Homo sapiens: one gene and its partner. The protein of the gene in region 1 interacts with the protein of each later gene in a pairwise test. Each region holds a gene or a part of one and is shown on either strand. Other genes may lie near its edges.

Region 1 (3,911 bases):
GAATATTCAGTCCTCATGAGGGTGTGGGGCCAGGAGGTGTTGGTGGGCATGGACCCTCCCCCTTGGTGTGGAAAGCAAAGAAAGTGAACACACCTGAGCCCAGCGTCAGACCACAGAGGATGTTCACAGAGCAGGAGGCTCCTCCCCATCCACAAAGGATGTTCACAGAGCAGGAGGCTCCTCCCCATCCACAGAGGATGTTTACAGAGCAGGGAAGCTCCTCCCCATCCACAGAGGATGTTCACAGAGCAGGAGGCTCCTCCCCATCCACAGAGGATGTTCACAGAGCAGGGAGGCTCCTCCCCATCCACAGAGGATGCTCACAGAGCAGGGAGGCTCCTCCCCATCCACAGAGGATGTTCAGAGAGCAGAGGGCTCCTCCCCATCCACAGAGGATGTTCACAGAGCAGGAGGCTCCTCCTGGACCACAGAGGATGCTCACAGAGCAGGAGGCTCCTCCCCATCCACAGAGGATGTTCACAGAGCAGGGAGGCTCCTCCCCATCCACAGAGGATGTTCACAGAGCAGGGAAGCTCCTCCCCATCCACAGAGGATGTTCACAGAGCAGGAGGCTCCTCCTGGACCACAGAGGATGCTCACAGAGCAGGAGGCTCCTCCACATCCACAGAGGATGTTCACAGAGCAGGAGGCTCCTCCTGGACCACAGAGGATGCTCACAGAGCAGGAGGCTCCTCCCCATCCACAGAGGATGCTCACAGAGCAGGGAGGCTCCTCCCCATCCACAGAGGATGTTCACAGAGCAGGAGGCTCCTCCTGGACCACAGAGGATGCTCACAGAGCAGGAGGCTCCTCCCCATCCACAGAGGATGCTCACAGAGCAGGGAGGCTCCTCCCCATCCACAGAGGATGCTCACAGAGCAGGAGGCTCCTCCCCATCCACAGAGGATGCTCACAGAGCAGGGGGCTCCTCCCCATCCACAGAGGATGTTCACAGAGCAGGGGGCTCCTCCCCATCCACAGAGGATGCTCACAGAGCAGGAGGCTCCTCCCCATCCACAGAGGATGCTCACAGAGCAGGGGCTCCTCCCCATCCACAGAGGATGCTCACAAAGCAGGAGGCTCCTCCCCATCCACAGAGGATGCTCACAGAGCAGAGGCTCCTCCCCATCCACAGAGGATGCTCACAGAGCAGGGGCTCCTCCCCATCCACAGAGGATGCTCACAGAGCAGGGGGCTCCTCCCCATCCACAGAGGATGTTCACAGAGCAGGGGGCTCCTCCCCATCCACAGAGGATGCTCACAGAGCAGGGGCTCCTCCCCATCCACAGAGGATGCTCACAGAGCAGGGGGCTCCTCCCCATCCACAGAGGATGCTCACAGAGCAGGGGCTCCTCCCCATCCACAGAGGATGCTCACAGAGCAGGGGGCTCCTCCCCATCCACAGAGGATGTTCACAGAGCAGGGGGCTCCTCCCCATCCACAGAGGATGCTCACAGAGCAGGGGCTCCTCCCCATCCACAGAGGATGCTCACAGAGCAGGGGGCTCCTCCCCATCCACAGAGGATGCTCACAGAGCAGGGGCTCCTCCCCATCCACAGAGGATGCTCACAGAGCAGGGGGCTCCTCCCCATCCACAGAGGATGTACACAGAGCAGGAGGCTCCTCCCCATCCACAGAGGATGCTCACAGAGCAGGGGGCTCCTCCCCATCCACAGAGGATGCTCACAGAGCAGGAGGCTCCTCCCCATCCACAGAGGATGCTCACAGAGCAGGGGCTCCTCCCCATCCACAGAGGATGCTCACAGAGCAGGGGCTCCTCCCCATCCACAGAGGATGCTCACAGAGCAGGGGGCTCCTCCCCATCCACAGAGGATGCTCACAGAGCAGGAGGCTCCTCCCCATCCACAGAGGATGTTCACAGAGCAGGGGGCTCCTCCTCATCCACAGAGGATGCTCACAGAGCAGAAGGCTCCTCCCGGGAGGCCAATTACAGCTGTGTGTTTGCACGGAAACATGGAAACAGGCCCTGTCCATCAATAGGGCAAGGGTTAAAAATTCAGTGTGTGTGTCTGTATGTGTGCTCATGTGTACAGAGTTGCCAGGAAACAGTTAAATGAACCAGGTAGCTACCAGATGGCTCAGGGTGGATAAATCTCAAAGAGATAATGCAGCAGCAAAAAGTTCAGTTGCAGAATAAAATGTGTAGGGTGCTACCATTTATGTACAACTTAAGCATATAAAAGTCATTCTCCAGTGTGTGTGGGCACACAGGCAGGCAGGAGGCACACGGAGGCCTGCCCGCTTGCTGTGCCCATAGACGCAGTGCTCCCACGGGCAGGATGGGCACCTGTGGCCACTTCACCACATCCAGCTCCTCCTTTTACACTTGAGGCCTGAGGGGAAGGAGGATGCTCTGAAGCCAGGGAAACCCCGGCAGGTGTTGAAGCTTGGGGTGGGGTGCATAGGGGTTGTTAACATGTTCTTTATACTTCCCAGGAATGTTTTAGGAGCATCAGCCTGATTTCTCATCCCTTTCCTCCCCGCCTCAGTTCCAGATTTCGGAAGGTTCACGAGTGTTGCCGACACGCCCTCCCAACTGCAGACATCCTCCCTGGAGGACCTGCTGTGCTCACATGCCCCCCTGTCCAGCGAGGACGACACCTCCCCGGGCTGTGCAGCCCCCTCCCAGGCACCCTTCAAGGCCTTCCTCAGTCCCCCAGAGCCACATAGCCACCGAGGCACCGACAGGAAGCTGTCCCCGCTCCTGAGCCCCTTGCAAGACTCACTGGTGGACAAGACCCTGCTGGAGCCCAGGGAGATGGTCCGGCCTAAGAAGGTGTGTTTCTCGGAGAGCAGCCTGCCCACCGGGGACAGGACCAGGAGGAGCTACTACCTCAATGGTATGGCCGGGTGCGGGGGCACCTGGGGGGGCCCCCAGTGCAGGCTGGCAGCTGTGGGGAGGGCATGACTGGGTGGTCAGGCAGGGCCGTTTCTCCATCCAGTCACACAGAGTGGAGGGAGGAGAGCCAGGCTGGGAGGCTGGGGTCCAAGGCTGTGTCTGTCCTAGTCTTTTGTCCATCTTTAAAGATAAAATGGGTTGCTTATCTTCTTCTTGGGAAGTTGTGAGAGTTCTTTATGTGTCTGGATATGAGTCCTTTTTTGGGTGTATGTTTTGCAGATACGGTCTCCCACTCCATGGTTTTTCATTTTCATAATAATGTTTTTTGATGAGCAAAACTGTTTAATTTGATGATGTCCAATTTATTGATTTTTCTTTTGTATTTTATGCTTTTTATGTTCAGTTTAAGAAATCTTTGCCAAGCCCAAGGTCACACAGATTCTCTCCTGTGTGTTGTTCTAGAAGTTTTATAGTTTAGGTTTTACATGTAGGTCTCTGATCAATTCCAAGTTAATTTTCATATATGGTGTGAGGTTTGCATGTAGATATCCACCTGAGGCTCAGGCCAGCCTCCCACCTCAGCCTCCCAGGTATCTGGGACTACAGGTGTATGCCACCAGGCCTGGCTAATTTTTTGGTTTTTGTGTTTTTGTTATTGTAGAGATGGGATTTTGCTACGATGCCCAGGCTGGTCTTGACCTCCCGGGCTGAAGCAATTCGCCTGCCTCGGCCTCCCAAAATGCTGGGATTACAGGCATGAGCCACCATGCCTGGCCTGTCAATTTTATTTATCTTTTCAAATAACCGATTTTTTGTTACATTGATCTGTTGTATTGTTTTCTTCATTTAAATTTCATTTATTTCTTCTCTGATCTTAATTATTTTTCTTCTAATTTTGGATTTGGTTTGCTCTTGCATTTCTAGCTCTGTAAGATGAATCATTAGCTTATTTGAAGTTTTTCTACTTTTTTGATATAGGCACTCATAACTATAAACTCTTAGCACTTACAGCTATAGCTCTTAGTATGGCTTTTGCTGAATCTAGTACATA
Region 2 (3,500 bases), on another chromosome or scaffold:
CACTCGGCTCGCTGGGACCAGCTCCTGGCTCATTGTGTTCAAGATGGCTTCGCTGGAGGAACCTGCCTGGAACACCCACAAGGAACCCAGGGTTACACAGGCCGGAGCAGAATGGTAAGTTCCTTGTAAGCCCTGCCTGTAACCTGGAGCAGGGCAGCTACTGCCTAGAATTGGCTCTGACCTTCGAGATAAGATGACCTGTCTTAACTGGCAGGCTGAGACTAGTTACTCCTGGGAGGCAGACAGAGGTACCATCCATGCCAACTCAGAGGATTCTTCACACTCCTCAAACTCTTGCAGCCTAGATGCCAGGGCTGGAGGAGATGCCAAGGTGATCAGGATATGGGGTGCTGCTTCCTGCCATCGGTGCCTCTGGTCCCCACCAGTTCAAAATTGACCACTGGATCACTAACTCATTCTGCAGGCTCCCTTCAGCAGCCAGGCCAGAGCCTGACATGCTCCACCCTGGGTGAAGTTGTACTGAATCACAGAACAGCCTTCCTCCATCCCCCACGACAAACAGACAAAAACCAAAGAGTGGGGAAAGCACCTTATTGTCCTCATTGTATTGGGAAGGGCTCTCAGGACATATGAAACCTGTATCAAGAAGATCTGGTAAGAATCAACAATCTTGTAGCTGCTGTGAATGCAACAGCTGTCATGCCCCAACCAGGGCATGTTTTGATGCTAAGACTGGATGTTTCACAGGCAAAGGATTTGGCTACTTGTTAGCTATTAACCCAGCTTGGAGTGCAACAGTCTAATAACCTTCATTCCCCAAATCAGAACAAGAAACTGCATCCTCTAGGGCCCACCATGAACGGCTGTGGCCACTTCCCACTGCGGCCTTGAATGGATGGGCCCAGGGATGGGCAGGAGACAGAGCATCGGGTCTTAATACATTTTTAAAACCTACCTAGCAATGGCAAGGTAAATAAATTAAGTGGACAGAAATTGTTTTCGTGGGGGAAAAATACTCTTCAATTTCCCAAAGTCTTGAGTCCTTCCAAGAGTTGAGAGTAGGGAGTTGACATGCAAGCCTCTGAGCTGGAGGTGGGCTTGCAGAGTGAGCTTAAAGGAAAGAGATCCAGTTCCCCCTCTCCAGTGAGGCAGGTTGCAGGAAGGAGGGGATGGTGAACTAACCAATCAAGGTAGAAATCAGTGGTTTAGGCACTTGTTACTCAAAGTGTGGTTGACAGAGCAGTGGCATTGGTATCACGTGGGAGCTTATTGGGAAGGCACAATCTTAGGCCCCATCCCTGACCTGCTGAATCAGAATCTACCTTTGGGTTTTTTTTGTTTGTTTGTTTTGTTTTGAGACAGGGTCTTACTCTGTTACCCAGGCTGGAGTGCAGTGCCACAATCTTGGATCACTGCAGCCTCTGCCTCTTGCACTCAAGTGATCCTCCCACTTCAGCCACCAGCCACCCAAGTAGCTAAGACTACATACAGGTGCAAGCTGTCACACCCGGCTAATTTTTGTATTTTTCATAGAGATGGGGTTTCATCATGTTGCCCAGGCTGGTCTCAAACTCCTGAGCTCAAGTGATTGGCCTCCCAAAGTGCTGGGATTACAGGCATGGTCCACCAGGCCTGGCCAAAATCTACCTTTGAACCTGATCTCTGGGTGATCTGTGGGCAGAATACAATTTCAAACATTCTGGTTTAGACTTCTGTGTAACAGGGGGAGGTAACCTGACTATACAGGCACCTTTCCTGTGGATAATCTGTCTTTTCCTACCTACTTCCTGGAAAAAATCCTCACCAGGCCCACTAAGATGGGCATTTTGAGAACATCTCCTTTAAAGATGAAAGGCCTGGTGCTTACCGAGATGTTCCACATCATCTTGATGGCCAAGGGGAAGGCAGGGGCCCCCGGAGCTCGCTCCTGCCCTTCTCCTGGTGCACTGGTACCTGGGCCTCTCCCTGGAAGCAACCCGGTGCTCTTTGTCACCTCCAGGTTCTGGGGCAATGTAGGCATGGTGGCTTCATACACAGCAGCACTGCAGCCCTTACCAATGGACTGCCCTATCAGATACTCCTCCAGCCGAAAGCCCTGCAAGCGTCTCGTGTCCAACGGGTCAGGCCCCGGCTTGCTTTTCTGGGTAAAAATTGCCTGTGATGAGAAAAGAATGCACCGTGAGCCAGGGAGCCTAGGAAGGCCCAAGAAAAGGGAAACAGGGGAGGCAGAGAGAGGTGCAGCAAGGCGTGGTCCACGTCGACCAGATCAATAAACCAGAAAAACACAACCCAACCAGGTTCTACTGCTCAGCCTGGGTCCAGGCCATCTTCTTTCTCATTATTCAGAATGATTTTTCTCAAACTCTGTTGCTTCACTGGGATCACAATACTCAATGATCTGAGAGGTCAGAAACCCCACGTCCCGCAGCCAGTGCACCTCTCCTTGCTGCCTTCACTCTCCAGCAGAGTTCTGGAGGTGTCTGATTATGGAGACAGCTCGCTCTGCAAAGACCTTGGCTGACGGCTCCTGGGCAACTAGCAGGAGTGTGTGATCCACAGTGATCTCAGAGGGTCTCTCAGGCAAGTGGGTGACATCAGGCGCATCCCCAGAGCAGAGGGATTCAGTACTGTCTTTCTCTCTCTGCCTCTTAGGGCCCCGATGAGGCTACTCTGTCCAGAAAGGTAGCAAGAGTACAAGAGTTCAGACAGAAATAGATGGAGGTGCAGGTGCTGGGGGCAGTGCTGCACTGGGAAAGAGGCCATGTGACAAAAATCTGGTGGGTCTTCCCCTGCTTCAGGCAGCGGTGACGTCACTCTTCCAGTCACCCAGGCTCCGCTTTCCCTCTCAAATGGTCTGATCTGCTGAGCTCTTCCTTTCCAAGGTTAGTCACCCCTGGGTGCCAGGCACAGCTCTGCATATGCCCCTTGGCCATAGCCTACCAGGCACCATCTCTAGACTACCCCACTCTCAGTGCCGTGCCTTCCCTGCTCTGAGCCACATCAAAATATGTTGCTTTCATGTGTCACTCGGCTGTCCATCAGACTGCCCAGGAGGTTATCTGTGTTCTGGCTGCTGCCAGGCTGGTCTGCACGCTGCCTGCACTCATCCTTTGGACGCCTCCCTCTGAAAGCTGCTCACAGCATCCTTCCAGCCCCTGTTTCTATAGTATTGCTCTGTCTGGCTCATCCCTGCTCAGCCATCAAGCCCAACTCAAGCTCCTCCTTCCTCTGTGACCAGCCCTGATGACCCAGCCCATGGCAACTTTCCTTCTAGAGGGTTCCTAAAGCACCTGCTATCTGTAAGCAACTTAACCTTGCACTATAACTTTGAACCTTTTAAAAAAATGAAAGTCCAGGCCGGGCGTGGTGGCTCATGCCTGTAATCCCAGCACTTTGGGAGGCCGAGGGAGGCGGATCATGAAGTCAGGAGTTCAAGACCAGCCTGGCCAACATAGTGAAACCCCGTCTCTACTAAAAAATACAAAAAATTAGCCGGGTGTGGTGGTGTGCACATGTAATCCCAGCTACTCAGGAGGCTG

Evidence for each region. Proteins that work in one complex are often made in the same cells at the same time.
Region 2: the proteins of SPATC1L (region 1) and PINK1 interact in a two-hybrid assay, tested with the Homo sapiens proteins (one large-scale study listed by BioGRID and IntAct).

What each region holds. Positions count from the first base shown.
Region 1 is NC_000021.9:46,167,258-46,171,168, reverse strand, and holds part of SPATC1L (speriolin-like protein), read left to right. Parts: intron 1-2,510; coding exon 2,511-2,861; intron 2,862-3,911.
Region 2 is NC_000001.11:20,636,458-20,639,957, reverse strand, and holds part of PINK1 (serine/threonine-protein kinase PINK1, mitochondrial precursor), read right to left. Parts: intron 2,117-3,500; coding exon 1,829-2,116; intron 67-1,828; coding exon 1-66. UniProt on the Homo sapiens protein: Serine/threonine-protein kinase which acts as a sensor of mitochondrial damage and protects against mitochondrial dysfunction during cellular stress.